Linked DNA regions of Homo sapiens: region 1 is linked to region 2. The links come from fine-mapping of genetic effects on gene expression. Tissue or cell type: atrial appendage. Region 2 holds a variant in brackets; the other region holds the start of a gene. All regions are shown on one strand. Distances are between the middles of the regions.

What was found. PIP is the estimated chance that this variant, and not a neighbour inherited with it, causes the effect.
Region 1: it holds the start of LGR5, and the variant in region 2 is fine-mapped to the expression of LGR5 in atrial appendage (GTEx, PIP above 0.99).

The regions. Positions count from the first base shown.
Region 1 is chr12:71,438,322-71,441,281 of GRCh38, forward strand. It overlaps LGR5 (leucine rich repeat containing G protein-coupled receptor 5), which reads left to right and starts at 1,477. Exons shown (of 18, transcript NM_003667.4): 1 at 1,477-1,971. The coding sequence starts at 1,760. All of the region lies in intron 2 of LOC124902962 (a long non-coding RNA gene), which reads right to left.
Region 2 is chr12:71,473,684-71,476,183 of GRCh38, forward strand. The region is part of intron 1 of LGR5 (leucine rich repeat containing G protein-coupled receptor 5); the gene reads left to right. Among named protein-coding and RNA genes, the nearest start is that of LGR5, 35 kb to the left of the region's middle. The variant G/A (reference allele first, on the strand shown) is at 1,349.

The DNA.
Region 1 (2,960 bases), 35 kb before region 2:
AGAATAAGCACAGAGTAGCAGTGAATGTGGTATACATAGGGAAAAGTGAAGGAAAAGGGTGTCCAGAGACGCGGGCTCTCTGTACTGATTGTGCGGAAACCGGAGTTAACTCACAATTTTCAGTGGCACTAGCACTGTCAAGTGCTTTGTTTGTTGTTTGTTTTTTCACCCAAGAAAGGAAGATGTTCAGACTACAGATTGTGGTCAAGAAATTATATATTTTAGGTGAACAAACAGCGAGGTTTGGACATGAAGGAAGGCACATACACTGCACAGAGAAACAGCTCTTCCCAACTCTAAAATTTAGACGTTTATTTGGGAAATTTTGTTGGGCAGTCTAAATGCAGGAAGATTAAAAAGGACTTGGAAAATCAACAGGGTATCCTGCCTTCATGATGCTGTGAGGCATTGTGCCCCAGAGTGAAAACTGCATTTTTGTGAGTTGGTGTGGCAGGCTTGGAATACCACCTCTTTCAGCAGCTCACTCAGGTCTGGCGAGGGCTATTTGTACCTCAACGAGGGCTTCTCTCCAAGAAAGCCCTGAATCCTTTTCCTCCTTTTTCCTGCAGATTCACTATAGGACACTTTTTGAAGCAAGAGCATGCATTTTCCCCCTGGCGCTCTGCAGCGGTTCTCAGAGCCCAGTGTCACTCACATAGGTGGGACTGCTCTCAGTTCAGAGAGCGCTGGGACACTTAAGATGAAAAGTCCCTGGAAGTTAGCAAACAGCCATCTGTCACTCTGGCATCGATTTACTAAAAGTGACTTCTAGGGTATTCTAAACCACTTTTAAAAAACAAATGAGTCACTTCGACTTCCTCACCCCGCAAGAGATAGGAAGGCAGCAGTGGAGTGCTCGCTCAGGAGCTGTATTTGTTTAGCGATTAGCCTAGAGCTTTGATTTTAGGGCAAAAGCGAGCCAGACAGTGCGGCAGACGTAAGGATCAAAAAGGCCACCTATCATTCGCCGGGGACGCCTGCCTCCTTACCCTGATAACGTAACTATTTCTCTGCATAGGATTTTAGTTTTTGTGTTTTTGTTTTGTTTTATTCTGTTTAATCACTTCAAGTATCTCATCCATTATTTGAAGCGGGCTCGGAGGAAACGTGCCGCATCCTCCAGTCCTTGTGCGTCTGTTTAGGTCTCTCCGAAGCAGGTCCCTCTCGACTCTTAGATCTGGGTCTCCAGCACGCATGAAGGGGTAAGGGTGGGGGGGTCCCCTATTCCGGCGCGCGGCGTTGAGCACTGAATCTTCCAGGCGGAGGCTCAGTGGGAGCGCCGAGAACTCGCCAGTACCGCGCGCTGCCTGCTGCCTGCTGCCTCCCAGCCCAGGACTTGGGAAAGGAGGGAGGGGACAAGTGGAGGGAAAGTGGGGCCGGGCGGGGGGTGCCTGGGAAGCCAGGCTGCGCTGACGTCACTGGGCGCGCAATTCGGGCTGGAGCGCTTTAAAAAACGAGCGTGCAAGCAGAGATGCTGCTCCACACCGCTCAGGCCGCGAGCAGCAGCAAGGCGCACCGCCACTGTCGCCGCTGCAGCCAGGGCTGCTCCGAAGGCCGGCGTGGCGGCAACCGGCACCTCTGTCCCCGCCGCGCTTCTCCTCGCCGCCCACGCCGTGGGGTCAGGAACGCGGCGTCTGGCGCTGCAGACGCCCGCTGAGTTGCAGAAGCCCACGGAGCGGCGCCCGGCGCGCCACGGCCCGTAGCAGTCCGGTGCTGCTCTCCGCCCGCGTCCGGCTCGTGGCCCCCTACTTCGGGCACCATGGACACCTCCCGGCTCGGTGTGCTCCTGTCCTTGCCTGTGCTGCTGCAGCTGGCGACCGGGGGCAGCTCTCCCAGGTCTGGTGTGTTGCTGAGGGGCTGCCCCACACACTGTCATTGCGAGCCCGACGGCAGGATGTTGCTCAGGGTGGACTGCTCCGACCTGGGGCTCTCGGAGCTGCCTTCCAACCTCAGCGTCTTCACCTCCTACCTGTAAGTACTTCCCCACGTCACTCCGGGAGAGAGACTAAGAGGGGAAGGAAGGTTCGTCCAAGGCGAGGCTGGAGGCTCCTCGGCGCCCGCCTGCTCGTGGGGGAGGGGGGCGAGTTTGTCAAGGGCATCCTGGCCAGGCCTGTTAGGGCCCCCAGAGAAATGCACGTGTCTCGGGGAGTAGCGTGCCGGCACTTTCTGGACCCGCAGAGAAATGGCTTCGAGTGCAACCCGGGAAAGCGCTGCTGCGCCGCAGCTTCCCAGTCCAGCGCTAGAAACATCGCAGGGCGAATTCCTGCAAATGCAGGCATTTGCGTGCGGAGTGGACATTTGTGACCCAGAGCCTGGTACCCAAAGGCAGGCTGCCATCTGGTCCCCGCCCCAACCGCCTCTCTGCGTCTAGTCGCATTCCACGAAAAGATGGTCTGTAGAAAGTTTCCCCAAAGGAGAAACAACTTGCCCAGCTCCAAAGGGTTTTTAGTCTGCATCCCTTGCACTGTGACGTGATGTAACCTTTTTGGGGTTTTTTCCTCTTTTCCTCCCTTCCTTCCTCCCTTCTTCCTTCCTTCCCTCCCTCCTTTCTTTTTATTTTCTTTCTTTTTTAACGGCGTGATTAAAATGTGGCAACCACAAACCCCGATTAGAGCTGCCAGAACGTTATCTTTACCTTTGGCTGCCCGCGCCGCCCTTTGAAGTGCCCGCGGCCGCTGTGTAATCTTTAACCATCTCTTCCCCCGGGGAGGAAAGGGGAAGTGGGCTGAAGGCTGTTGGGCTGGTAAACAGCGGCACCGACACCCAAAGGGAGACCTGAAGCTCTCTATCATCCCTGGGGGATTCTCCCACCCCTTCTCTCCCCACTGCAACTTCCAAAGCCCTGAGGCGGCGGCTCATTGCGTAATTTTTTCTGTGGAAAACCCAGGCCCGAAGGTAACAGGTAGTTGGGTGAACGCGGTGACCCAGGAGGAACCCTATTCTCGGAGACCAAGGCGACT
Region 2 (2,500 bases):
TTTGCAGTGATAATTTAAGTCATCCTTAATTTTAAGAATATGATTATTCAATTTACCAGATTACTAGTGTTTTATTATTATATATAAAACAAATGAAATTACAGAACAATTATCTATATATCCTTAGATCCTGAAGTAATACACTCTGTATTCATTTGCAATCATTAAAAATTTAGAGTCAGTTTACCATCCTACCAAGTAGCTAAGTAACAACACCTCGCTTTCCCAGAGGTCAGTCTTCTTGCAACTTCAGCCTCTTAAAACAAATCCAAGAGTTGAAAAAGGATGCTGAGTGTCGAATATTACTGTACAAATCTCATGCACTAAAATCTCTTCAAAAATGAGCCCTGGGATCTCTTTCACATCCTATTTGTTTTCTTTTACATATAATCCAGATAAGCTTTCTTATTTGGCTTTTGAATGTACGTTGAATATATATTTCAATTCTATAAAAACTAAATACAAAAAAAAAAATCCCTTTCACTTTTCATTGATAACTGCAGGACTTATCAACTAATAACCCAAAAAACAGCAAAGGATAAACAATTCAGAAATTAGAACCAAAAAATAAAGCAAAGCTATCTATCACCATTTGGTGTGTTAACAAGGAATCCCACAGTTTTCACTCATTAGTTTCAAAAGTTGCTCCCGAGCAGGTACTGGTGTTTATAAGATGGTGACCATGAATGATAAGAAAAATTAAAATTCTTTTTAAGACAGTAAAGTATAGAATAAATTACTAAAATATTCCTATACCAATTTTTAACATTGAAACTGTCTTGGCACTTTAAAGGATAAGCTTCAGTTTAGGTGGGAGACCCACACCTACAGAAAAATCTATTTTAAAATCGACCCAGTAAGTGGGGAGAAGTTATTTTGGTATTTAAAGTTTATAAACGGATGGTTTAGTTCCCCAATCTTTTAAAATACTACCATTAGTAAATATATTACAAAGCAACATATGTTAATACTCTCTAGATTATGTCCTTGCCTGTATTCAATTTCACATGACAGTATGTGGAAAAATCAATTTACTTAATTTTAAGCTTGTAGGGCTTCTTTTAGATAATGTTCAAAACTATAAACAATGTAGCAACTGATCGTCTTCTAGAATGAGTCTGATAAAAAGTGAATTATGTAATTCTTGAACTTGGAAAAGGAGGAAAAATACATCATAGCATAGAGTTACTTTAAAGCTTTAATGTTGGCCAAGGGAGATTAAATTGCCTTTGGGGTGTACAGATGCAGAAGATTCCGTTGGTGTGCTTTTCAAAGCAAAGACAGATGATATTAGGAAATAAAGCATGAGGGCTTCTGCTTTAATCTGTCCACATTAATGTTTTGATCT[G/A]TGACTAATTGGAATTGCAAGTAGGGTTCAAGAAGATTCTCAGCCAATCTGAGGCTAGCAGACATGTAAGTCTCCCAAAAATGCATCTAGGAAGATTGCTTGACCACAAATGAAAGAACGTGTGAAGAATTGTTCTAATTTAAGCCTGTTAGTGCATCTAATTCAAAATTAATATGGAATAATGACACAAAAATGACAAAAAAAAGTTGGCTATCAAGAAAGAAGGAAAATAAACTAAAATATACTATACAATCTCCAAAATTAAAACACTGTTCCCTTTATACGTCTTTAATTTAAAACAAAAGAAAAAGAACTGCCACCCAAGAGATTTACTAAATCCAAAGATGATGTCATTTCCCTGCTTAAAGTCCTAGAGTGGCTCCCAGAGCCTCCAGGATAGTCTGAACTTCTCAACGTGACATATGAGGCCAGCTTGATCTGGCCTTGGCTGTTGATGCTTTTCAGGCCTCCTAATGGGTCGTGTTGCAACACAAGCACTTCCATTCAACTATGCCAATCTATTGTAGTTTCTGCAGAACAGCCTGCTCTCTTATGCTGCGACGCTCTTGTACATGCTGTTCTCCTACCAGAAATGCTTTTCCTTCTCTCACTCATCCCCCCCTTATCATAGCTGATATTTCTTTTCAAGACTCAGTTTAAGTGTCAGGGCCTCTTGGAACCCTAACAAAAGAAAGGTTGTGATTAACAGTTTAATATAAGTAAAAAGAAAATTCTCAGAGAGTTTAGTGGAAGAAGAGATTAATTCCTAATCAGCTAAGATCTAGGAGAGATTTTTATGGGAATATAGATTTTATATTAAATCTGAGAGGACAATGAAACTTTTACCATTTTTATCTTACTTAGAAAATGAAGATCTTTATTCTATACATCCTTTCCTCCTTGGACGAACCTTGAGAGTTAGCTTGGAGATTCTAACAGGATAGAAAAATCACTGATATGTTGGGGATTGACACGCAGGGTTCCTCTGTTAAGGAAGGTTGTCCTCTTTGAGCAGAAGGTTAAATGGGGGCTCACATATGAGGGAATATTAGGACACTATCCAGCCAGCCAGATTAATAGGTGGACAGTAAATTCACCCAAACCCACCAGTTCCAGTGGTTCGCTGGAACACCAACCACTTCGTCTGAATAC